7 linked regions of the Homo sapiens genome follow. The protein of the gene in region 4 purifies or fractionates together with the protein of the main gene of each other region. This does not show direct contact. Each region holds a gene or a part of one and is shown on either strand. Other genes may lie near its edges. The genes, in order: TSC22D1, TALDO1, PTPRD, ACVRL1, TGFB1, CASP14 and INHBA.

Region 1 (3,500 bases), on a different chromosome or scaffold from region 4:
GCAAGTTTCAGTTTATTCACCAATAAAATAGAAAAAAACTTAATTCACAAGATTACTGAGTGGTTAAATATGGTAGACATTAACTGAATCTAATACTAACATTTTTCATCACTTCTATGAACTGAAATTCTGAATTACATACTATTCTTATTTCTAACAAATATAAACTAAGTAATTCCACTCTTAAAATTTATGTATTCATTAGAGAACTAACTTGGAGCTATGACTTAATTAAAATTAGCATCATTCATTACATTTAATAGTACAGTATTCTACCATTGAAATAGATGTGTAATGATACTAAACACACACATCTATTTTTTCACTCCTTCCCTAAAACCCCACTAAAATGACAGAAAAGCAATTTGTTAAGATACAAAGACATAAGCCCACAAAAACTGAGGCAGATGAAAAGACAATAGCAAAAAAATTTGAAAGCTGGAAAGCAGACAGTTGAGTGACAAATGACTTAGCAAACACTAGAAAATCAAAGCTTTAGCAAACAATGGAGAATGCCAAAAACAAACCCAATTTAAACTGCAAAATCCCCAAAAGACTCAGGAATTGGCAGTACCACATCTATATAAGTGGGATGTGGGGGGAGAAGGTGCTAAAATTAAAAAGATTGTTTAGAAGTCAGTTTAAGAAGCAACCAGTCCTACAGATTCCCAACTGTCCCTCCCTAATCCCAAGAAAAAAAAAGGAATATTGTCTGAAGAAGGTAAAACATAGGATCACAGGACTAAGGAAATCAGGCACAGCAAAATGCAGAACATACTGAAAACAGGGTTGAGTGAAGAAACGTATCTGGGGATCCCCCAAAACCTTTCATTCCACATCCCCCTCACTGCCCACCCCACAGAATGCTTGTAGAAAGGCCTTCAATTCCAAGCAAGAAATCAGAAGAGCCTTCTTATAGGGATCTAACCAGCTAGGAGGATATACAAGAAGAAACCGACACTAGAAGTCCTCCAACCAAACACCACAGCCAGGTTACCATACAGGAAAGCTAACAATTGACAAGCCACGCTCAGAATTTCTAATTAGCATTTTAATTCCTTACTCTTACACATGACTACCAACTATCTGAGGAAAGGCTATAAGATGAAAGATAAAGACCAAAGCAAATAAAAAGTAAGAAAATAAAACCTAGAGGAAACACCACATAGAAAGAAAAAAAAAACTTTTTAAAAAAGCTAACATTTTATATATTCAGATAGCTAAGAAAAAATACTATCATTATTAAAATAGAATAGTATACTATTAAAAAGGAGCAAAAAAAAAGTTCTTGGAATTTAAATATGTGATAAGGGAAATGGAAACTCAATAGAGCAAAAAGAAAAACAGATGAAAAGTAGTTGAGAAAACACAAGAAAATTAGAAGACCAGTCAAGAAGGTCCGTTATCCAAATAAGAGGAGTTTAAGAGAGAAAAAATAGAAAGACATAATCAACAACCTGACTCAAGAAAAAGTCCCAGAATGAAAAGATGTTTCCAAACTGAAAGGGTTCACCAAGTACTCAGCACAGTGAATGAAAACAGACCCACACAAAAATCCATCATGGCAAAACTTCAGAACACTGGAAACATAAAATCTTATAAAGGTTTTAGAGGTTTTAAAAATGAGAGGAAGAAAAGGAAGAAGGAAAAGGAAGGGAAGGAAAAACAAAATACACAGGTCACATACAATATATAAGATATCAGAATGGCTTCAGATTTCTCAAAAGCAATATGGATGTTAGAAGGCAATGGCACAAAATATAAGAGAACATAACTTCCCCACCTGGTATTCTTTACCTAAGAAAGTGTCAGAGTAAACTAAAGCCATTTTAAAACAAGCAAACTAAGAATAAAGACACTAGTCTCTGGAAAATAAAGATCCAACACAAGACAAAGTGAAAGGAATCCCAGAATAATAGTTGTGTACCAAGCCAAGAAGGCAACCAGTCAAGAATGGAGGTCAGTGGGATATAACACTTCCTGAGAAAGATAAAATTGTTAACAATATCTGATATTGGAACATCCTAAGAGGCATCTGATGAAAAGTGGATTTAGTGATAAATATAGAGAAAACTAGGCAAAGAGGTAAAAAAAGACAATGAACTCCAGCCAGATTACTCTGCGGTAAAGTTAACAGTCAACAAGCCACACGGAAAAAGAATTTTTAAAAATAATTATATATATATAGTAGAGACAGGATCTTGCTATATTGCCCAAATTAATCTCAAACTCCTGGCCTCAAGCAATCCTCTCACCTTGGCCTCCCAAAGTGCTGGAATTATAGGCGTGAGCCACCATGGCCAGCCCCACACTGCAAATCTCTAATCAGCTCTTTAATCCTTTAACACTTATTTGCAAGCAGACAATCAAGACTTACCAGACATCTAAGGAAAGGTTCTACAGGAAAGGTAGAGCCCAAAACATACAAAAATGGGAAGAGGGTGGGGAAAGGAGGGGCAACTTGGAGAAAACAGACAGCGCTGACAGATGAAAACCTGGGAGTGGAGGAAAACCCATTTCTATAATAGACAGGTGGGGATGGAGCAGGGAAGCAGCCACAAAACACTGTACAGGATAGGAAAAGTAATATTTGACAAGAATACTGAATAATCAATATTGATAACTACTGGGAGGAAGGGTACTGGGAAAAAAGGAGACCAGGTAGGTATATGGTAACAACAAAATTAAATCTTCATTTTCTATCCAGGAAGTTAATACAGACAAAAAGAAATGAAAGGTGTATTTTATTTAACAAATACCTACATAGGGCATGTGAGTTAGACAAAGTTCTAGGGAATTTCCAAATTCATTTAATTCTTATATCAACCCAATGAGGTAACTACTATTGTCATCATTTTTTTAATGAGAAGATTGAACCATAAAGAGGATAAATAGCCCGATGTTACATAAAACTAGTAAATGACAAGAAAGATCAAATCTAGGCAATCTAACTCCACAGTCCATGCTCCTAACGAGCAGGCTATATTACATATCTAGTGGTAAGACAAGCAAGTTATTTAGAGACTGGGAGGTAAATACCACAATAATCATCTAAAAGAGGTGAAAGTGATTGTTTCTAGGAAAGGAAAACTGGAAAGTAAGGGTGCAGGAAGCTCTTCCATTTATTTCTTGGAAAACCATTTAAACTATCTTTAAACTGTGCATGTACATCTTGAAAAAAAAACTTTAAAAATTATAATTTCGTATTTTAGTTAACAAAGTATTTTAACTGATACTACTGCTATCCTGAGAAGCAGGCAAAATGAGTATTACTCCTATTTTATAGGTAACACACATGCGTCTTAAATATTTGAGGACCTACTATAAAACAGGCAATGTACTTTGCAGACATACATCAATTCACCTAAAAATGTTGATGAGAGATACAAAAAAGCAAGTCTTTTTATTCAGTTCTTTTCCATTTGTTGCATAAATTATATGATCCTGCATCTCTCACAATTGTGCTTAAGATGAGGGACAATATAAACTTTAAATCATGA
Region 2 (3,500 bases), on a different chromosome or scaffold from region 4:
AATATTAGCCAGGTGTGGTGGCGTGCACCTGTAGTCCCAGCTACTTGGGAGGCTGAGGTGGGAGGCTGGCTTGAGCCTAGGATGTAGAGGCTGCAGTGAGCTGAGATTGTGACACTGCACTCCAGCCTAGGTGACAGAGCCAAACTCTATCTCAAAAAAAAAAAAAAAAAAAAATTTGGGGCCATCTGGACATGGGTGCAGGGCTCATCTGTTGATCACCCAGCCAAGCAAAGGCACCAATGTCACCCAATAACAGGAGCACCAAGGCCTCACTGATGCCACAGGGGTGCAACACCACGAGATGAGGAAAAGGGAGCTAAGAAGAGAGAGGAGAGGGTCAGACTCAGTGTCCAGAGTGGCTGTCACAACATGGTCAGGGGAGCCACTCACCAGCCACCTGGACCTAAGCAAAGCCAGTACCAGAGAGGGACCTGCTCCTGTGTGGTGCCCACGTTGCCTGCTCGGCACCATCTTCAAGCTTTGAATTATTACCCTGAAGAGAATCTAAAATGACATCTAAAATATGCAAAGCCACAGGCATGAAGAGGGCTCTACAGTTGCTTGGTTGGGTAAGGGAGTGGGGAGCTACTGCAAACAGGTACCAGAGAACATTCTGGGAGTTATAAAAGCTATTAAAAAATTAAAAAGCCAGGCACGGTGGCTCACGTCTGTAATCCGAGCACTGTGGGAGGCCAAGGCAGGTGGATCACTTGAGGTAAGAAGTTCGAGACCGGCCTGGCCAACATGGTGAAACCCTGTCTCCACCAAAAATACAAAAATTATAGCCAGGTGTGATGGCGCATGCCTGTAATCCCAGCTGCTCGGCAGGCTGAGGCAGGAGAATCGCTTGAATCTGGGAGGCAGAGGTTGCGGTGAGCCGAGATTGTGCCAGTGCACTCCAGCCTGGACAACAAAAGCAAAACTCTGTCTCAAAAAAAAAAAAAAAAAAAATACAAAAATGAGCCAGGAGTGGTGGCACACACCTGTAAGCCCAGCTAATTGGGAAGCTGAGGCAGGAGAATTGCTTGCACCAGGGAGGCGGAAGTTGTAGTGAGCCAAGATTGCTCCACTATACTCCAGCCTGGGTGACACAGCGAGACTCCGTCTGAAAAGTAAAAAATAAAATGACAGCCAGAAGGTAAGTGTTACCAGAGCTGGGGAGACTGACTACAGGAGGGGAGGAGGGGCCTGTGGGGGTCTGCAAGTGCTCTGCATCTTGACTGGGGTGGTATTTACAGGGTACACACATTGGCAAAACTCTCTGAACTGCTCATTTACCACAGGTGCAGGTTACTTCATGCAGATTACACTTCAATAAACAAAAATAGGCAAAAAGATAGGGTTTTTTTCCCCCCTTGAGTTCATGGTGTTTGAGAACTAAAATTCAGTTAGGGAGGGAAGCAAGGCCAACTAGACTAGCACGAGGGCCTAGCTGGGACCCTCCCGAGTCCAGGCACTCACCCGCCCAGCTTCCGGCCATAGGCAATCGCCTCCTCCACCAGCTCCTGGTAAGCGGGCATCTGTGCTGCGGCCAGGATCAGGGACGGGTTGGTGGTAGCATCCTGGGGCTTGTACTCGTCGATGGCTAGGGAAATAGTTTTCAAAAGCCAAAGTAAGTGGAGTACTTGCTTCCAACTGGAAACATGTGAAGGAACCCTGTAATTCCCCAGGACGTTAGGGGAGTCCAGAGCATTTCCGAAAGCGGGGTCCAGCCACACTTCTCACACCTTCTTCTGGGTCACTGAAGGTTCATCAAGAGGCGGCTGTTTGCATAATGATGGAACAACAAACACTAAGTGCCCAGCGATCAAATATGCCCCTGCAAGAGGTGACCTGTAACAGCATGGGAGTGAGCGGTGCGACAGCTGGGAGAACGCTGGTCAAAGGAAAATGTGCATCCCACTGCCGTACCACCACAAGGAGGCGCGCGGTCTAGTCATGAGCCACATGTGAACGCTGATCTTATGGACTGGGTCATTATCACCATACCCAGCTGCAACAGAGTCAAGAAGCCAAGGGGAGCTGGGCGCGGCGGCCCACGCCTGTAATCCCAGCACTTTGGGAGGCTGAAGCGGGTGGATCACGAGGTCAGGAGATCAAGACCATCCTGGCTAACACGGTGAAACCCCGTCTCTACTAAAAATACAAAAAACTAGCTGGGTGTGGTGGTCGGCACCTGTAGTCCCAGCTACTCGGGAGGCTGAGGCAGGAGAATGGCTTGAATCCAGTAGGCGGAGCTTGCAGTGAGCCGAGATCGCGCCACTGCACTCCAGCATGGGTGACAGAGTGAGACTCCATCTCAAAAAAAAAAAAAAAAAAAAAAAAAAAGGCCAAGGGGAAAAGCACTCAGGACACACAGCATTGCTCCAAAAATTATTACCTGCAAGCCTAGTTGCTGAAGCGGCCTCTAACCTGAAACCAGTTTATCTAATAGTTGCTGAACCGCACTGCTGCAACTTTAAGACTAATTTTATCCACTGCTATCACTCACCAATCATTCTTTTTAGGTTTCATAGAAAGACTAAATTAGCCAGGTGTGGTAGTGCATGCCTGTAGCGTCAGCTACTCAAGAGGCTGAGGCAGGAGGATCGCTTGAGCCCAGGAGGTTGAGACTGCAGTGAGCCATGATCATGCCACTACACTCCCACCTGGGCCAGAGAGCAAGACCCTATCTCTTAAAAAAATAAATTCAGGCCGGGTGCAGTGGCTCATGCCTGTAATCCCAGCATTTTGGGAGGCTGAGGCTGGTGGATCGCCTGAGGTCAGGAGTTTGAAACCAGCCTGGCCAAAATGGTGAAACCCAGTCTCTACTAAAAATACAAAAATGAGCTGGGTGTGGTGACACATGCCCGTAATCCCAGCTACTCAGGAGGCTGAGGCAAGAGAATCGCTTGAACCCAGGAGGTGGAGGTTGCAATGAGCTGAGATTGCACCACTGCACTCCAGCCTGGGTGACAGAGTGAGACTCTGTTTCATAAATAAATAAGCAAACAAATAAATAAATATCGCATTCAGTAGCTTCTGCAGGTAACTTGACAAAACCTGACCTAAGAATCCTTTTAGTCGGAGTGGACAACTTTGACAATGTCCCAAGTTTTTGTTCAAATTGTACTGGTGGTCCCTTTTATAAAGCTGACATTCTCTGCTTTAATCAACCCAGTCATAAAATGCTACTCAGTGGCTGGGCACAGTGGCTCACACCTGTAATCCCAGCACTTTGGGAGGCCAACGGGGGTGGATCACTTGAGGTCAGGAGTTCGAGACCAGCCTGGCTAACACGGCGAAACCCTGTCCCTACTAAAAATATAAAAATTAGCCAGGCGTGGTGGTGCATGCCTATAATCCCAGCTACTCGGGAGGCTGTGGCAGGAAAATCACTTGGACCCGGGAGGTGGAGGTTGCAGTGAGCCGAGATTGTGCCACTGCACTACAGCCTGGGCAATGGAGCAAGACTCTGTTGCAAAAAAAAATAAAAAAGTTTTTTTCTTCAGAGTAACCAA
Region 3 (3,500 bases), on a different chromosome or scaffold from region 4:
TCTTGTGCTGAACTGCAGCATTCTGGCAATTTCTCCTTGCACCTTTCAAGCAATCCTGAATAAGATGGTGGTTCTTTGCTGTGATTTCTTCTTCCCTTGATTTTGAATCCTTGAGGTATCTGTAAATAAAATCCTTCAGATGCCTCATCAGTCAGGATTCTCTTCATTATTTTTCAGGTTAGATTATTAAACTGTGAATTCTTGGTCCACCTGGAATAATTTGTTTTTAATTTGTTTTGTGTGTAATAGTCCCACTAAGTAGTTGTTAGCTAGAAGTTAAGAAGGACTTCTCAAGTGCCCTGTATGGCTCAGAAGAGACTCCATGGATATTGAAGGGCCTGTAGTAAAAATCCAGAATGGGTCAGGGGTTTCTACGTTGCATAGTGGTCAAAGCTGCCCAGGTACTCTAGTGCGGCACGATAGGAAAACTGATATTGATCCTGCAGGAGACAATGAATGGGGAGAAGCAAAAGAAGGGACCATGAGCATATTTTAATAGAAAAATAAAAATCAATATTGCATAACAAAATAACATCTATATAGGGGCAAAATCACTACTTTCGTCAACTGGTCTAATCCAATGACCAATTGTTTATAGTGAACAAAGAAAAAGCCACATGGGGTGTTGATTAACTTTGCCAATCAATTTGACTAAAACGATCTCCCAATTCCAAGCAGTGGCAGGTCGAGTGAACATTACCTTCCCAGACAAGTGTTTTCCAAGTAGTATCAAACCATTACCACCAATTGAACACATAAACTTCTTACATGCCTTATAAGCAGATAATGATGAAAATCATCCTTTACAATTATCTGCTTATTCAAGATAACTAATTCTCAGTTTAAATATTTAAGAGAGGCTGATACAGACACAAACTGTCCTGAGAAAAATCTGAATTTACTTATCTTCTGAACTACTGCCAACAGAATTTGAATTTTTAAAAAATTATGTTTGGACAGTAGAGCTTGCAGTGAGAATCACTCACAGTCATTTCAGCTACCCTTTGGCTGTCTCTCTCACTTACATATGATGTTCATATACAGCCAGAAGGTAGCTGGTGCGGCACACCAGGCACACAAATCCATTTACACAGGGCACTGGACTTCCAAGCTTTCCATCCCTGAAAATGGCTTCACAGGACTGGCTGCCCACATCAAAAAATACCTGTAAATTCAGCCCAATTCTGTGTGATTGCTAGTTGTCTGTTTTAGAGAGGCACACACTAAAAAAAAGCAGTATGAAGCATGGCCTTTTTCAGACAACGAAGAACACTATCATATTGGAATAAATTGAAGCATTGTTGGAGAGATGGAAAAATCACAATTTACAGCTCTCTATAGGGATGAGGAAAAGGATTTTCCCCATAAAAGAAACCTATTTTCAGTGGCCAATCGGGCTGAAAGTAGACAGATAGTTTCTATTTTGCTTAAATGTGCATTTTTCTGTAATAAAAATGGTTGGTAATGCAAAATAAATGGTGTTTACTTTCCTATCTTGTCACAGTAAGTTGCTTGGCTGAGTGTTAAGGCTTTTTAAATGTCCAATTTCCCTCTGTAACCCCTAAGACCCATTAAGTTTGTCAAGCTGGCATAATGTTTTGACTATTGCAAGCCAAACACTTGCACTACTTTGAAATCCGTCTGAAAGATACTGTGGATGATGAATTGAGGAACACATATAAGTTGTATAATTTGGTGGCCTTTTGCAGAACATAAACTCTATCAGTAATATTATCTTTAGAAATGAATGCTCAATAGACCAGACTGGCTATATCATAAACTCTTATTATTACGAGAAATATCCAAATTTCCATATTAATTATTGGAATAGGAAATGAGGGGCTAATATTAATATCTCTAGGCTTATCCAGAATCAAAATGTTTTGAATGGCCATTGTTAAGACATGAAATATAGAAGAGCTGATACCTCTGTAGGCATACAGAGGGAGAATGGAGAAGTTAAATGGGCTGAGATTATATTATGTACTAAATATTATGCTTTCTATATATTTATATATTTATATTATAGGACTATGAATATAACGAATTTTATGAAATTGCCATTTTATTGGTCAAAAATGGTCCAGTAGTAAAATTTAACATAGCTCAATCTAACATATAATCTCACATAATTTCTATAGCAACACTAAGACACTAATAATCTCATCCCATTTAAAAAGGGGGAAAATGAGGTTCAAAATTATTAAACAGTTTGATGCTTTCCCCACAGTATTTTGTGTCTGGTGTTGAGAGAGTATGGAGTCCGGGAGGTCCAGGCTAGCAAAACGTAGGCTCTTGAGATGCGAAAAATGCAATGGATTTTCTCACCTCTGTCTGTACCATAGCTGGTCGTTGTGTTCTTAACATTTTGACAGTCTGGAAGATATCTACAACTCCTTCATATCTCATTCTTTCCAAAACAATGCTTAGCGTTATGAAGACTCCAGTTCTTCCAACGCCCGCGCTGCCACAATAACAAAGGCGATGTTACTGGGTGAGATGTTCACAGTCTTGGCCACATTTGCTTGGGTGTGGACATACTTCTACCAGCTTCCACACTCCGTATCTCTTTATAGCCATATTCAGGAAAACATGGTATCACATTCATCAAATGATTACTCTTGGGATACTGAGTTGTAACAGCATGTGATAATGAGGATGAAGTAATTAGGAGTAAGTCTAATAAAAGGTCTTTTCAATGGGGATTTATACCATTTTAGAAAGACCAAGGAAACATAACAAATGAAAAGAAAGGGTAAATAACATATAGGTTTATAATATTCATGGAGATTCTGAAATTTACAACCTGCCTACTTAATATTTTTAAAGTATGAAATAATTCAGAATAAGGTGAAGTGAATTTGGCATCTTCAACTTTTCTATCACACTGTTCACATTTTGCAGTTACTTAAAATACATATGCGATGCCCATAACCTAAATGTATTTGCCTATAACTAGTCAAATGTTTACACTGGTTTTATTATGAGAAAAGAGATGGTATAACAGGGTATATACGTGATTTTCACTTAGTCTTCAGGAGGGTTTATGACTATCCTGTAAGTGTACGTACACATGAAGTAAATACTATGTTGTTTTCTTATTTCTTGAGACTTAGAACTTTCAACAGATTCTCACAGGGGTCTCTAATCTTAAAAAAAAATGGTTAAGAGCCATTGATCTCTGAACTTAGCTACCATTTTTACATGATCAGCAACTAAAACCACATTAGAAAGGTTTTGAGTTTCTCTCTGTTGTCTTCATTGTTTTAAGATAACTCCAGAATCTTCACGGTAGCAAGAAAGAAAATTAATTCATAGCTCTTGTGCACTTAAGGAGGAAAGCAATGGGAAGTTCAGATAATGAGGGAAACAGTGAATAATCTGAAAAATCCCTGCATTTTTGGATCCTAATTAAACAGCATGTGTAACACTTGGGCACGGGCTGTAGAAAATAGATGGATTCATTTACTGGAGGGTGTAGCTGACAGGCATATATAAAT
Region 4 (3,179 bases):
GATGCAGAGGGAGGTGGGTCAGAGAAGATGGGAAGAAGATGAGGAGGATGGCCGGTAATGGGGAGACATAAGCAGGAGAGAAAGGATGAGAGGAGGGAGATGAGAGCATTGGAAAGGAGAGCGAGAGGAAAGACAAGTGGTGAGAGAGAGAACAGAGGATGACAAAAAAATAAAAAATGGAAGAGGAAGAGAGTAGAGTGAGAAAGGGATGGAGAAAGACAGGGCGGACAGAAAGAGAGAACTCAGATCTTCAGGAGCACTCAAGCCCCCTTGGGCAAGCAGTGTCTGTGAAACACCTTACCCCCATCCCCACCTTTGCCAAGATCCATAGGAAGGGGCCGATTCTTCAAGCCTGGGGGCTCCCACATCCCCATCCACAGCCTAAGACCCCAGTGCAGAGGGCAGTGTCTTCCAGCCCCTCCATCAGCCATGGCTGGGCCCAGGGGACTGTGGAAGTGGGAACTGCCCTAAAAATGCAAGTGTCCAGGGAGCAACCCATCCCAAAAAGCTCATCAACCCATCCCAGGAAGCTCATCAACCCATCCCAGGGCCTGAAATGAGCTGGCCCCACTTCTGGCTCCTGAAAGTGAGTGTATGTGTGTGTGTACAGGAATGCATACATGTGGCTTTTTGCGGATATGTTGTACAGAAATGTATGTCTATGTACACATAGATGTATACATGTATAGAATATATTCATTCTTTCAGTAAATATTTATTAGCACCTATTGTGAGCCAGATACTATGATAGGTAATAGGGACATAAGGGTGAGCAAAAGACACGTTCTTTGTCCTCACGGGGCCAACAGTCTGGCATATATGCGCATGTGTATATTTCTGTGAGTGTATGTTCAGAAGGATATTCACGCTTGTATGTGTTGATATACGTGTGTGTGTCTTTGTACAAGTGAAGTGTTTTGAGAAAAAACAAGGACAAACAACAACAAAACAGCAACAAACAAAGACAAATAGCAACAAAAATACCACAGTGGTCAGGTGTGGAGGCTCACACCTATAATCCCAACACTTTGGGAGGCTGAGGCAGGAGGATCACTTGAGCCCAAGAGTTTGAGATAAGCCTGAGCAACATAAAAGACCTTGTCTCTACAAAAAATTTTAAAAATTAGCCAGGTGTGGTGGTGTGCACTACACCTAGCTACTGGGGAGGCTGAGGCAGTAGGATCAGTTGAGCCGAGGAGTTTGAGGTTACAGTGAGCTATGACTGTGCCACTGCACCCCAGCCTGGGTGACAAGAGCAAACAAAACCCTGACTCTCAAACACACACACACACACACACACACACACACACACACACACAGAGCCACAGATAGCCTCTGACTTTTCACAGGGAAGGTGAAGGTTCTTAAAATCCCAGAATGACCAGATGGCCCTGGGGGCAGGGAGCATGGGCCAGGGTTGAAAGAGGGAGTACCTAGAGAGGTGCCCTAACCAGGACACTCAGTATCTATGAGATGAAGCAGAGGCCTCAGACACAAGTTCCTGGGCCCAGAAATCCCAGCCATGAGCCACCACCCCACGCCATCCTAGTCCCAGCAGAGGCCTCACCGGGTCTGCAGCCAGCCGGTTAGGGATGGTGGGGGTCTGCTGATCCACACACACCACCTTCTTCATGTCCTCAAAGCTGGGGTCATTGGGCACCACATCATAGAAGGGTGGTCTATAGTCCTCCACGATGCCTGGAAATGGAGAATGGACAGGACAATCACTTGGGACTCTAAGGAGGCCCAATACCACCCAGAGGAGAGCCTTTTCTACCCTCTATCCAAGGGCCAGAAACCAGTGGCCTGGACACGCTACCCCTGAGAGGGACAGTATAATGCAATAAATGTGTTTCTAACTAATGTTAATGACTGCCATTTGTTTTGCACATGGCATGTGCCAGATATTCTGCTGTAAACACTTTACATGCTTTATCCTGTTTGTCCTCACAACAGCCCTGTGGGGTGGGTACTAGTATTACCTCCATTTTACAGATGAAGAAACTGATGCTCAGAGAAGGGGGGCCCAAGGTTCCACAGCTAGTAATGGCAGAGGCAAGACTCAAACCCATCTCGGATTCCTAGGCCAGCCTTGTTCCAGTCTTCCCTCAGCTGCCTTCCACCCAGTGCCCGGGACTGCTCCCAGGCCCCAACTATCACACATGCCTGATAATAATAACACCAAATGTTTACTGAGCACTGTATGCCAGGTGCTGTCCTAAGAGCTCTGCATGAAATCCTCACAGCAGCCCTATGAGGTAGGTAATACTATGAGCTCCACTTTATAAGCCAAGAAATGAAGGCCAGAGAGTTTAAGAAACTTGTCTAAGATCAACAGATAGTAAGTGACAGGGCTAGGATTTAAGCCCACAGTCTAACACCAAAGCATGTGCTCTTGACCTCTGAGCTGCACTTATCTTTTTACCCAGGTCCACATAACATCACCCAGTGTCAGGGATGGCACAGGCCTCTGCTGACTCCTGCAGCCAGCACTGACCCCCTCCTCTTGGTATCCCAAGTTCACAGTTTTTAGTAGGAGCTTTCTGAAAACAATGCCGGTGGAGCCGCAGACAGCCCCGTGCCCCATCCTGTTTCCCAGCCTGAGGCTGGGGGCCATGGCCACACAGGCCGCAACCTCGATAGAGCCTTCGCCAGCTGTTCTCCCCATGGCCAGCTTCCAGGCCGGCCCCTGTGCCGCTCACGCCCTAATCAGTGCTGCACAGAGGCCTGAATGTGTCTAATGGGCCTTTAATCAGTGCCGGGGCTGACACCAGATTACAGTGTTTATAATGCGCCGCGAGTCCGTGTGGGGCTGATGGAGCTTCCCCCTCCACCCCAGGCAGCCTCCTCCCAGCCTTTCCTTTCTGCCCTGCAGCCTGGTCCAAGGAGCCTTGGCTTCTTCCAGGTTCCTCTTTCCCCCGATCCCGGTCTCCTTAGAGCCCACTCTGGCAATTCATGCCCGGAGTCTTGAGGAATCTAAGCACCTCGTGAGTCTCCCCAAGGGACCGGTGACACCACAGCCTCTGTTTTCAGTTGATGACCACCGAGGACAAATGAAGTCTGGCATGGGGCTGGCTCCTGGTAGATGCTCAGGAAATGAGGACATCCTTGTCCCCAAGAAGCAGGGCTCCAGCCATATCCTGAGGATTGTCCCCAACCTGTCACGACTCCTGGAAGTC
Region 5 (3,500 bases), on a different chromosome or scaffold from region 4:
GTAGACCTTACTTGAATCCTTATTTACACAGGCTTAAAAAAAAAAGATATTTATGAGACAGTTGGGTAAATGTGAACTCTGTCTAGATATTCCTCTAGATATCAAGGAATTGTTAATTTTCTTACATGGTATTGTGACTGTGTTTTAAAGTAGTCTTAATTAGAGATACATTTGAAATATTTATGGATGAAGCAACACGGTGGATTGCATGTGCTTTGAGATAAACCATTGTCGGCTGGCTGCAGTGGCTCACAGCTATAATCCCACCACTTTGGGAGGCCAAGGCAGGAGGATTGCTTGAGCCTAAGAGTTGGAGACCAGCCTGGGCAATATGGTGAAACCCCATCTCCCAAAAAAAAAAATATGAAAAGTAGCTGGGCCTGGTGGTGTGTACCTTTTGTCCCAGCTACTCAGGAGGCTGAGGTGGGAGGTTGGCTTGAGCCCCAGGAGCTGGAGGCCACAGTGAGCTGTGATTGCACCACTGCACTCCAGCCTGGGTGACAGAGTGAGATCCTGTCTCAAAAAAAAAAAAAAAAGAGATAGTGGATAGGGGTAGAGATGCAATGGAAATTGGCCATGAGTTGGTCATTGTTGAAGCTGCTTTTGTGTACATCTGAAACTTTCCAGCTGGACGCGGTGGCTCACACCTGTAATCCCAGCACTTTGGAAGGCTGAGGCGGGTGGATCACATGAGGTCAGGAGTTCGAGACCAGCCTGTCCAACATGGTGAAACCCTGTCTCTACTAAAAATACAGAAAAATTAGCTGGGTATGGTGGTGTGTGCCTGTAATCCCAGCTACTTGGGAGGCTGAGCCAGGAGAATTGCTTGAACTTGGGACATGGAGGTTGCAGTGAGCCAAGATTGCACCACTGCACTCCAGCCTGGGGCAACAGAGCAAGACTCCATCTCAAAAAAAAAAAAAAAAAACTTTCATAGGAAAATTTGTTCTTAAGGCAGCTCGAACACTACCTCCTTCCTAACCCCTTTCTCCAACATCCAAGATGGATGTGAGGCCTCTGGGCTCCCCTGGGGCCCTAAGTAGATCTTTGACTCAACAAACAGTCTCTGTTGGGTCTTTTATTTATAAAAAGTTTTGTAGCGACAGGGTCTCACTATGCTCCCCAGGCTGGTCTTAAACTCCTTGGGCTCAAGCGATTCACCGGTCTTGGCTTCCCAAAGTGCTGAGATTACAGGCGTGAGTCACTGCACCTGGCCTAGGTCTTGAGAGACTGGACGGAAGAGGCTTGGCAAGGGCAAGGGCTGTGGGTATCCCAAGGCCCGGTGCAGGGTAGGCCCCGAATGTGTGCTGAAAAAATGAGTCAGAGGATCACCTAGACGGCTTGTTCAACACGGACTGTTGTTCCCAGTCCTGCACACAATTTCTGATTTCAGTGGCCTGGGGTGCCACCTGAGAATCTGCATTTCCCATAGTTCCCAGGTGATGCTGCCGCTGGTCCTGGGAGCTCACGTGGAGAGCTGCTGACTTGGATAACAGTATCACAGATTGTTCAAATCCTAGGATCTCAGAACCCCAGCTAGGGTTGAACTGCATATTAAAGATGATTCTGAGCCGGGTGCGGTGGCTCATGCCTGTAATCCCAGCACTTTGGGAGGCCGAGGTGGGTGGGTCACCTGAGGTCAGGAGTTTGAGACCAGCCTGACCAACATGGTGAAACCCAGCCTCTACTAAAAATACAAAAAATTAGCCAGGCATGGTGGCACATGCCTGTAATCCCAGGTACTTGAGAGGCTGAGGCAGGAGAATTGCTTGAACCCGGGAGACGGAGGTTGCAGTGAGCTGAGATCACACCATCGCACTCCAGCCTGGGCAACAGGAGGGAAACTCCATCTCAAAAAAAAAAAAAGATTCCGGACACTAGTTCTTCCCCTTTTGTGAGTTCAGAACTTCCTGTGAGAAAGTGAAAGCCAGGACTCTTTTTCCCAGAAATACATGCATACATACACACATGTGCATATGATCTCAGGCACTCATGGCCCTCCCTAAGCCTGCCCATGATGGCCCCTTGGCCCTCAGCTTAACACCTTATTTTATCTAGTAGCTCCTACCTCTGAACAGATGAGGAAACTGAGGTCCAACCAAATTGGGTGGTACGGGCTGAGTTCACAGGGATCTCAGTTTCTTGACTTCCTTCTCAGGCTTCTGTGGCTCTTGGAAAGGCTTTATCTTGCCTCTAGGTTATCCGGTGCCACTTGAAGTTGGGTTCAAGCGATTCTCCTGCCTCAGACTCCCCAGTAGCTGGGATTACAGGTGCCCGCCACCAGGTCCAGCTAATTTTTGAATTTTTAGTAAAGACAGGGTCCTCAAGTCTGCCTGCCCTAGCCTCCCAAAGTGCCGGGATGACAGGCGTGAGCCACCGTGCCTGGCTGGCCCCACCAATCTATGAGCAGAGGTTGCAGTGAGCCAAGATTGCACCACTGCACTCCAGCCTGGGTGACGGAGCAAGACTCTGTCTCAAAAAAAAAAAAAAAAAAAAAAGGCATTGTCAACTTTTTCTTTTCTTTTCTTTCTTTTTTCTTTTCTTTTCAAGACAGAGTCTCACCCTGTTGCCCTGGGTGGAGTGCAGTGGCACGATCTTGGCTCACTGCAACCTCTGCTTCTTGGGTTCAAGCAGATTCTTGTGCCTCAGCCTCCTGAGTAGCTGGGATTACAGACAAGCACCGCCACACCCAGCTAATTTTTGTATTTTTAGTAGAGACGGGGTTTCGCCATGTTGGTCAGGCTGGTCTCAATCTCCTGATCTCAGGTGATCCACCCGCCTTGGCCTCCCAAAGTGCTGGGATTACAGGCGTGAGCCACTGCACCCGGCCTCTTTGACAGTTCTAAGAAGTAAAATAAACCAGAAGAAGGCAGGCAGAGAGTAATAGATATTGGGAACTGTTATTTTTCCTATTCTGATTTAAATTCCTTTATTATGGAAAATTTCAAATGTATACAAAAGCAATGAAGATAATGAATGCCCGTAAACTCTCATCCAGCGTCATCGGTAATTAAGATTTTGCCCCATTTCAAATGCAGACATTTTTATATTTTCTTGCATAACTGCAATACCGTATTGCACTAAATGGAACTAACAGTCACTTGGATATTTTGGAAAGGATGGCTCAGAAAGGTATCTCTGAGGAGGTGATGTTCAGTCATGTAACTGATATTTACTAGTACCTACTGCATTCCAGACACTGCTTTAGGAGTTAAGGGTCCCTGAGTGAAGGACATTTGAGCTAAGGTTTAAATGAAGTGAAGGGGCCAGGTGTGGTGGCTCATGCCAGTAATCCCAATGCTTTGGGAGGCCGAGGCGTGCGGATCGTTTGAGCCCAAGTTCGACACCAGCCTCAGCAACATAGTGAGACCGTGTCTCTAAAAAGAATAACAAATTAAAAAGAATAAATAGGCCAGATGCAGTGGCTCAGGTCTGTAATACCAGCACTTTGGGAGGCTGAGGTGGGCGGATCACAAGGTCAGGAGTTCGAGACCAGCCTG
Region 6 (3,971 bases), on a different chromosome or scaffold from region 4:
CACATAGGTGCAGTTGAAGGGTCAGTGATCTCCACTGGCTTAAACTAAACAAGAGCTGCCTCCTACCTAGTTCCTGAAAAACAACTTTAAGCACCCATTACTATAGTGTCCCACAGACAAAAATGTTATCTGTAAGGAAGCCAGTGGGAGTTTAGTTATGCATTATTTGGCTACGTGACTTGCTAGTGGCGCTTTTAAGATCAACTATAAGTAAGCAATTAAAAGTAAGTAAGCAATTAAACGCAAGGCAGATTAAGTCTGGAGGGCTTAATCAGGTTCGCCTTTGGTTTCACTATTAACATAAGAAATAAAATGAAACAAAATGGCTGAAAAATAATAAGAGGAGGAGGAAGAGAGGAATCATCATGATGCATCAGTTAAGGCAACTGGGCTGGAACATTTTAGGGGTTGTTTGTTTGTTTTTATATTTAAGACAGAGTCTTGCTCTGTCACCCAGGCTGGAGTGCAGAGGCACAATCTTAGCTCGCTGCAGCCTCAAACTCCTAGGCTCAAGCCAGCCTCCTACCTCAGCCTCCTGAGTAGCTAGGACTATAGGTATATGCCATCATTTTTATTATTATTATTATTTTAGTGACAGGGTCTCACTATGCCCCGGCTGGTCTCAAACTCCTCACCTCAAGCGATCCTCCTGCCTTGGCCTCCCAAAGCGCTGGGACTACAGACGTGACCCACCACACCTCACCCCTTATAGGGTTGAATGCCAACTGTGCCAATTGCTGACCTTGGGCAGTCATTTCACCTCTATGAGCCTCAGTTTCTCCATCTGCAAAATGGGAGCAAAAATACTGATCTGTCTAGACTCTTGAAGACTCGATGAGATAATAACTAAGTGAAGTCGGTGTTATCTACACAGTGGAAGGTGAGATGAATAAACTAGGCATAATGATGATGGTAATAACCAGATGGGCTGGCTATGGGATGGGGGTTGGGAGAGGTTGTGGCTGGGCTGGCACAGACATCTGACTCATTTAGACTCTCTGCCTAGGCCACCTTTGCCAGAGGGAGTCCCCTCAGCCTTGCGATCACTCATCCCATTGGCGTTGGCTCCATTTCCACACCACAGCTGTGTGCCAAGGGTGTGTCATGAGGTTTCTTGAGTGACAGAAAACTCACCGACAATAAAGGGCCAGGTGATTGTGCCACCCGATTCATAGACCAGGCTTCTCAGGAGAAACCCCGGGAGATTCCACACTGTCAGCCCCTTCTCCAAGATCAGTACGTGGGCCTGACTCCTCCTCGGTGCCCAGCTCAGTATTGGCAACTAGGAGAGTAGTGAGATTGAACTTGGCCTTGAGGAACAGCTGCCTCTAGAGTTGGTAAGTGATTTGGTGGATATTAGCCTCTCTCTCTCTCTCTCTCTCTCTCTCTCACACACACACACACACACACACACACACACACACGCACATACACACATACGCTCCCTCTCCCTTCATGAATTAATGCTCTGGCCAGTTTTGGCAGAATGGAAGAAATTTCCATCCATCCCCTCTTTCTTTTCATCTGTTCATTTTTTTCTTATTTGTTTACTCAGCAAATTCTCTCCAACACCACCTCTGTGCTCCCTGCCACACTGTTGGCCATGATGGAGACAGAGATAATGAAGTCAGGCTTTCAGTCCTGAAAACTGAGCTGCCAGTTCAGCCATGAGAGTAAGAATCAAAAACACTGCTGTAATTCAAGTAGGAGCAAGCAGAGCTGTGAGAGTCCAGAGAAGGAAGAGGAAAGTTCCAGGAGGTCAAGAGGGATCCTAAAACCTACCTGGGTCACCATTGCTGTTAAGCACCTAGAGCTCTCCCCAGGTCCTTTGCGGATGGGAAAATCGAGTCTCAGAGAGGAGAGTGAGATGCCGAAGGTCACACAGCTGGGAAGGGACTGAGGCAGGATTCGGTTCTGGCTCCAGGGCTATGCTCCTTCCACTTCCTCCCTCACAATCTTTGGCTCCTCTTTCGTCACAGCACTTGCTGTGTGTGTGTGTGAGTGTGTGTGTGTGAGAGAGAGAGAGAGAGAGAGAGATTTAATATTCATTTCTGTCACAGACTAGAGCTACAGAAGGACAGAAAGTCAGGGAGCATGTCTGTCTTACTTAATGGATTCTAAGTGCATAACACATAATAGATACCCAGAAAATATTTGCTGGGTAGGTGGGTGGGTGGGTGGATGGATTGATGGATGGATGGATGGATGGGTGGGTGGGTAGATGGATAAGTAAATAGGTGGATGGATAGATGGAAGATAGAGATGATGGATGAAGGAATGGATAGAAGGAGGGCTAGATGGAGGGATAGTTGGAAGATAGAATAGATGGAGGGATGGAAGACAGAGAGAGATAATGGATGAATGGATGGATGGATGGATGAATGAATGAGTGGTTGGATGAATAAGTGGATGGATAGATAGATGGATGGGTAGATAAATGGGTTGATGGAAGAATGAATGGGTATATGGGATGACTGATTAATAGATGGGTAGACAGACGGATGAATAGATGTGTGAGTGGGTGGATGGATGGATGGATGAGTGGATAGATAGGTAAGTGGAAAGATAAATTGGTGGATGGGTTGATGAATAAAAGGATGGATGTTAAATTGGATTGATGGATGACTAGATAGATGTGCGGGTGGAAGGATGGGTGGATGGGATGACTGATTAATAGATAAGTAGATGGACAGATGAATAGATGGAAGGGTGAGTGGGTGAATGGATGGATAGATGATGAATTAATGGATAGATGGTAGATGGATAGATGAATGAATTGATGGGTGACTGGATAGATAGATGGATAAAAACATAGATGAATGGATGGTTGATGGGGGAAGGCATAGCAGATATTATGCCACCAAAATTGTCAGAGAAGGATCTAGATAGAAAAAAAAAAAGCATTCCCGGTGGGGTGCAGTGGCTCACATCTATAATCCCAGCACTTTGGGAGGCTGAGGTGGGCAGATCATGAGGTCAGGAGATCAAGACCATCCTGGCTAACACAGTGAAATCCCGTCTCTACTAAAAATACAATAAAATTAGCCAGGCATGGTGGCGCATACCTGTAGTCCCAGCTACTCGGGAGGCTGAGGCAGGATCATCACTTGAACCCAGGAGGCAGAGGTTGCAGTGAGCCGAGATCATGCCACTGCACCCCAGACAGCCTGGGTGACAGAGTGAGATTCTGTCTCAAAAAAAAAAAAAAAAAAAGCAAAAAGCATTCCCTACTGAGGAGAAAGTGTAGGAAAAGGCAAAGAGATGGGGAAATGCCAAGAGTATGACAAAAGTCTGTCTGTGCAGCCAGAGAAGAGAACAGGACTCAGAGATGAGAATGGAGAATGTGGACAGACATTCAGACTCAAGGAAGAGCAAGGGAGGTGGATTGACCCCTTCGTATTGGAGACCCAGTGAGATAATATCAAAGTTGCATTCCCCACTTCGATGACATTCTCCTTTTAAACACTCCTCCAAGGCATCTCTTTGAGATGGCTTCCCCAGCCCGTCATCTCCTAGGTAGAAGAGGCAAACACATGGGTCACTTGCCCTGCTCCTCATTCCAGGGCTTTCAGGGGAAGTTCAGTCCACCAGAAGCTGGTGAATGACCCACGGGAGACACAGGAAGTTTTTGGGGGCGGAGTGGGGGACATTGTGGGGTAGGCTCAGCAGTTCTGAAGAAGACATCCAGAAATGGAAGACATCGTGAAATTGTCATTCTAGGGGTGATATATTACTACTTCATGGATTATCATCTATTGCCCAGATCTGTCCACAGACCAAATCCCCACCACTTGAGTGCTATTTGGTCTCAAAAATCCAGATACATAAGCCAGTTTGTCCCCTGAGCCCCTCGGCCTCCCTTTAGAGAACTTTAACCTATCTTCTCTTGACTCCAAGGATCAGACAAGGGTGCTGAGAGCCGGGACTCACAACCAAAGGAGAAATGAGCAATCCGCGGTCTTTGGAAGAGG
Region 7 (3,500 bases), on a different chromosome or scaffold from region 4:
TCCTGCATAGAGGCAGAAGGGAAAACAGCAGGTATCTTGTTAACATTCTCTATGGGGCAAGGCAGATGTGCCCAAGCTGGAGGAAACCTGCACACCCTCCAGGCTAGTTATCCAAGGCTTGGGAGGTTTCCCTCGGCCTTCTCCTAAGGCCTTGGCAGGACCCTGCCACCCTAAAATCAACTGCTGATTGCCTTTTTAGATTTAAATGATTAAGCTCTGCTTATGGGAATCTTCTTCTCTTTTATTTTGTTAAGAAACAAACAACAACAACAAAACCCACACCAATTCTTAGCAAAGGGGAATATCGAATTCAGATTTTGAAAAAATAAGTCATCATGCTTCCTAAAATAAGACAGCTTCTCCCTCTAACTGCTCTCTCTGCTCTGGTATTCTATCTAATCATAAACCCAGCTTTATTATTCATTTCAACTCCTGCCAAAGACATGAGGTCGGAGTCAGAGGAACTCCCCTTACCACCGCCACCATCATCATGGCCAGCATCCTCGTAAGTTTATAGAAAGATGCCAGAGAACCTTTCCTATCCATCTGCAGCCCTGCTTGGCCCTTGCCTCAGTGAATTTACCACTATCATAATCACAGTGTGCAGAGTGTGTTAAATTAAGAACAGAATCCACAGTACGCAATGCACAGAAAAGCCTGCCTTCTGCTGCAGAGAACTTGAAACTGTGCCTAAAATTTATAGTACCGTAAACATCTCAGGGCCTCGAGTGATAAGTATGGCTGGATTTCCGTTAACTATAGAAATCCAGGCAGGGAGATCCTCCCAGGGAGTTGCAAGTTCTAAGATGAACTTCTTGAAGATTGTTCCCAGATTTGTGCATGGGATACATGTACAGCAGACAGTTGTAAGGAGGTCCACGGTCATGGAAAAGAGGATATGTTTCTATATGCCACCAAGTGGGAAAAATGGAAGTGAGGGAAAATATTTGATTAATCAAAAAATTTTAGTTTGGATACCTGCTTTCATAGTAATTGTTGCTGTGTCATTAAACATACAGTTGCTTAGGAAAAGAGAAGGAAATAGGTGACTTTCTAATTTTAGAGTTAGGCTGGAACTGAGTGGTTGCTAAATTCAACTGCCCTGACAATGTGGGGATTTCCTGTCCATTAGCAGCGATTGCTATTTGACATATGTTTCTGGTGCCCATTAATCTGCCCTGTAATGGGTCAGAGGCAAAAATGGGGGATTCAGAGGTACTAGGTGGCTCTCTTAATTTAATAGAACTCAATGCTAAGGACGCCTCTATTTGTTAATAAGTAATCAAGTCATTGGCTACTTTCTGCTAAACACTAGACTATGATAGTGACCTTAGACCCCGGGCATTCTAAACCAGGCTGGCAGGAGGGTGGTGGTGGAGGTGATGTGAGGTAAGCCTCCTAGAGGAACTGTCATCCAAACAATCTGAAAATTGAAACATTATTAAAGGCAGCACTAAGGGTGGTATGTTGGAGTTGGGGCAGGAGCACTTAAGGCAGAAGGAACAGCAGGTGTCACTGCCTGCAGTTGAGAAAGGGGGTGGAATTCTCAAGGCCTTAGACCCCAGAGAACAGGACTGGGCAAGAGCTGACATTCAAGGGAGGAACAGCATGTACAGAGCCCAAAGTCCCAGCCACTTTCTGTTGGATACTGAGCAATAGGAATTCAGTAAAGGACTTTCAAGAAGAAGTGATGTGATCAGATCCACCTGTGGGAAAGATGCCTTTAGCTGCTTCATGGAGAAATGACTGGAGAGGAGGCCTTCCTTAGTGTTGCAGAGGCAAAGTAAAGAAAATGCTGCTGCAGTGACCCAGCAAAGAGGTGATGGCGGAGGAATCAGGCTGTGACAAGGGAAGAAGAGGCTGGCTCAAGTGTGTCTCGACTGCACAGACTTACACAGCGAGGTGGGGCCAGGGGCTGCATTTTTGTCTGAGAATAGTATTTCCTTAGCTTTCTAGAGCTTACAGTGTCTTTTTGTTTATGTTATCTCATTTGACCTTCCTAAACCTGTGAGATAACAGGTCAAATGTCCTTATGTCATTCCCATTTTTATAGAAGATGAAACTGAGGTTGAGCAATTAGTCAACAGACACAGACTCGCAGGCCCTCTTCATTCTAAAGCAAGGGTCCAAAACCTTTTTTCTATAAAGGGCCAGAGAGTAAATAATTTAGGCTTTGTGAGCCAGGCAGTCTGTTGCAGCTACGCAGTCCTTGGTTATTATAGTGCAAAAACAGCCATAGGCAGCATGTACAGAAATGAGCATAACCATGCTCCAACAAAACTTTATTTACAGGCACTAATGTTTAAATTTCAGGTAATTTTCACATGTCACAAAATATCACTTTTCTTTAACCACTTAAAAGTATAAAAGCCATTCTTAGTTTGCAGGCAGTACAGAAACAGTTTCAGCCCATGGGCTGTCATTTGTTGACCCCTATTCAAGAGGGTCTGTCACAGAAGACTCCTGCTTGCCTGAAATTTACGAGTGCATGTAAATGTTGGAATTAACAGGTGTGCCTGTTTTCTCTTATGCTGTCTTTCATCTTCAGGAACAGCCAGGAAGACGCTGCACTTCGAGATTTCCAAGGAAGGCAGTGACCTGTCAGTGGTGGAGCGTGCAGAAGTCTGGCTCTTCCTAAAAGTCCCCAAGGCCAACAGGACCAGGACCAAAGTCACCATCCGCCTCTTCCAGCAGCAGAAGCACCCGCAGGGCAGCTTGGACACAGGGGAAGAGGCCGAGGAAGTGGGCTTAAAGGGGGAGAGGAGTGAACTGTTGCTCTCTGAAAAAGTAGTAGACGCTCGGAAGAGCACCTGGCATGTCTTCCCTGTCTCCAGCAGCATCCAGCGGTTGCTGGACCAGGGCAAGAGCTCCCTGGACGTTCGGATTGCCTGTGAGCAGTGCCAGGAGAGTGGCGCCAGCTTGGTTCTCCTGGGCAAGAAGAAGAAGAAAGAAGAGGAGGGGGAAGGGAAAAAGAAGGGCGGAGGTGAAGGTGGGGCAGGAGCAGATGAGGAAAAGGAGCAGTCGCACAGACCTTTCCTCATGCTGCAGGCCCGGCAGTCTGAAGACCACCCTCATCGCCGGCGTCGGCGGGGCTTGGAGTGTGATGGCAAGGTCAACATCTGCTGTAAGAAACAGTTCTTTGTCAGTTTCAAGGACATCGGCTGGAATGACTGGATCATTGCTCCCTCTGGCTATCATGCCAACTACTGCGAGGGTGAGTGCCCGAGCCATATAGCAGGCACGTCCGGGTCCTCACTGTCCTTCCACTCAACAGTCATCAACCACTACCGCATGCGGGGCCATAGCCCCTTTGCCAACCTCAAATCGTGCTGTGTGCCCACCAAGCTGAGACCCATGTCCATGTTGTACTATGATGATGGTCAAAACATCATCAAAAAGGACATTCAGAACATGATCGTGGAGGAGTGTGGGTGCTCATAGAGTTGCCCAGCCCAGGGGGAAAGGGAGCAAGAGTTGTCCAGAGAAGACAGTGGCAAAAT

What was found.
Region 1: the proteins of ACVRL1 (region 4) and TSC22D1 purify together in Homo sapiens (affinity purification with western blotting, with the first as the bait; one study listed by BioGRID). This does not show direct contact.
Region 2: the proteins of ACVRL1 (region 4) and TALDO1 purify together in Homo sapiens (affinity purification with mass spectrometry, with the first as the bait; one large-scale study listed by BioGRID). This does not show direct contact.
Region 3: the proteins of ACVRL1 (region 4) and PTPRD purify together in Homo sapiens (affinity purification with mass spectrometry, with the first as the bait; one large-scale study listed by BioGRID). This does not show direct contact.
Region 5: the proteins of ACVRL1 (region 4) and TGFB1 purify together in Homo sapiens (affinity purification with western blotting, with the first as the bait; 2 studies listed by BioGRID). This does not show direct contact.
Region 6: the proteins of ACVRL1 (region 4) and CASP14 purify together in Homo sapiens (affinity purification with mass spectrometry, with the first as the bait; one large-scale study listed by BioGRID). This does not show direct contact.
Region 7: the proteins of ACVRL1 (region 4) and INHBA purify together in Homo sapiens (affinity purification with western blotting, with the first as the bait; one study listed by BioGRID). This does not show direct contact.

What each region holds. Positions count from the first base shown.
Region 1 is NC_000013.11:44,566,331-44,569,830, forward strand, and holds part of TSC22D1 (TSC22 domain family protein 1), read right to left. Parts: intron 1-3,500. UniProt on the Homo sapiens protein: Transcriptional repressor. Acts on the C-type natriuretic peptide (CNP) promoter. Acts to promote CASP3-mediated apoptosis.
Region 2 is NC_000011.10:753,964-757,463, reverse strand, and holds part of TALDO1 (transaldolase), read right to left. Parts: intron 1,586-3,500; coding exon 1,462-1,585; intron 1-1,461. UniProt on the Homo sapiens protein: Catalyzes the rate-limiting step of the non-oxidative phase in the pentose phosphate pathway. Catalyzes the reversible conversion of sedheptulose-7-phosphate and D-glyceraldehyde 3-phosphate into erythrose-4-phosphate and beta-D-fructose 6-phosphate.
Region 3 is NC_000009.12:8,317,503-8,321,002, forward strand, and holds part of PTPRD (receptor-type tyrosine-protein phosphatase delta isoform 1 precursor), read right to left. Parts: intron 2,465-3,500; coding exon 2,329-2,464; intron 441-2,328; coding exon 372-440; 3' UTR 1-371.
Region 4 is NC_000012.12:51,917,504-51,920,682, reverse strand, and holds part of ACVRL1 (activin receptor type-1-like isoform 1 precursor), read right to left. Parts: intron 3,141-3,179; coding exon of another isoform or gene 2,985-3,140; intron 1,699-2,984; coding exon 1,568-1,698; coding exon of another isoform or gene 1,460-1,567; exon of another isoform or gene 696-1,459; intron 1-695. UniProt on the Homo sapiens protein: Type I receptor for TGF-beta family ligands BMP9/GDF2 and BMP10 and important regulator of normal blood vessel development. On ligand binding, forms a receptor complex consisting of two type II and two type I transmembrane serine/threonine kinases.
Region 5 is NC_000019.10:41,333,423-41,336,922, reverse strand, and holds part of TGFB1 (transforming growth factor beta-1 proprotein preproprotein), read left to right. Parts: intron 1-3,500. UniProt on the Homo sapiens protein: Transforming growth factor beta-1 proprotein: Precursor of the Latency-associated peptide (LAP) and Transforming growth factor beta-1 (TGF-beta-1) chains, which constitute the regulatory and active subunit of TGF-beta-1, respectively.
Region 6 is NC_000019.10:15,048,309-15,052,279, forward strand, and holds the start of CASP14 (caspase-14 precursor), read left to right. Parts: upstream 1-1,171; 5' UTR 1,172-1,337; intron 1,338-3,897; 5' UTR 3,898-3,943; coding exon 3,944-3,970; intron 3,971-3,971. UniProt on the Homo sapiens protein: Non-apoptotic caspase involved in epidermal differentiation. Is the predominant caspase in epidermal stratum corneum. Seems to play a role in keratinocyte differentiation and is required for cornification.
Region 7 is NC_000007.14:41,689,591-41,693,090, reverse strand, and holds part of INHBA (inhibin beta A chain preproprotein), read left to right. Parts: intron 1-2,548; coding exon 2,549-3,441; 3' UTR 3,442-3,500. UniProt on the Homo sapiens protein: Inhibins/activins are involved in regulating a number of diverse functions such as hypothalamic and pituitary hormone secretion, gonadal hormone secretion, germ cell development and maturation, erythroid differentiation, insulin secretion, nerve cell survival, embryonic axial development or bone growth, depending on their subunit composition.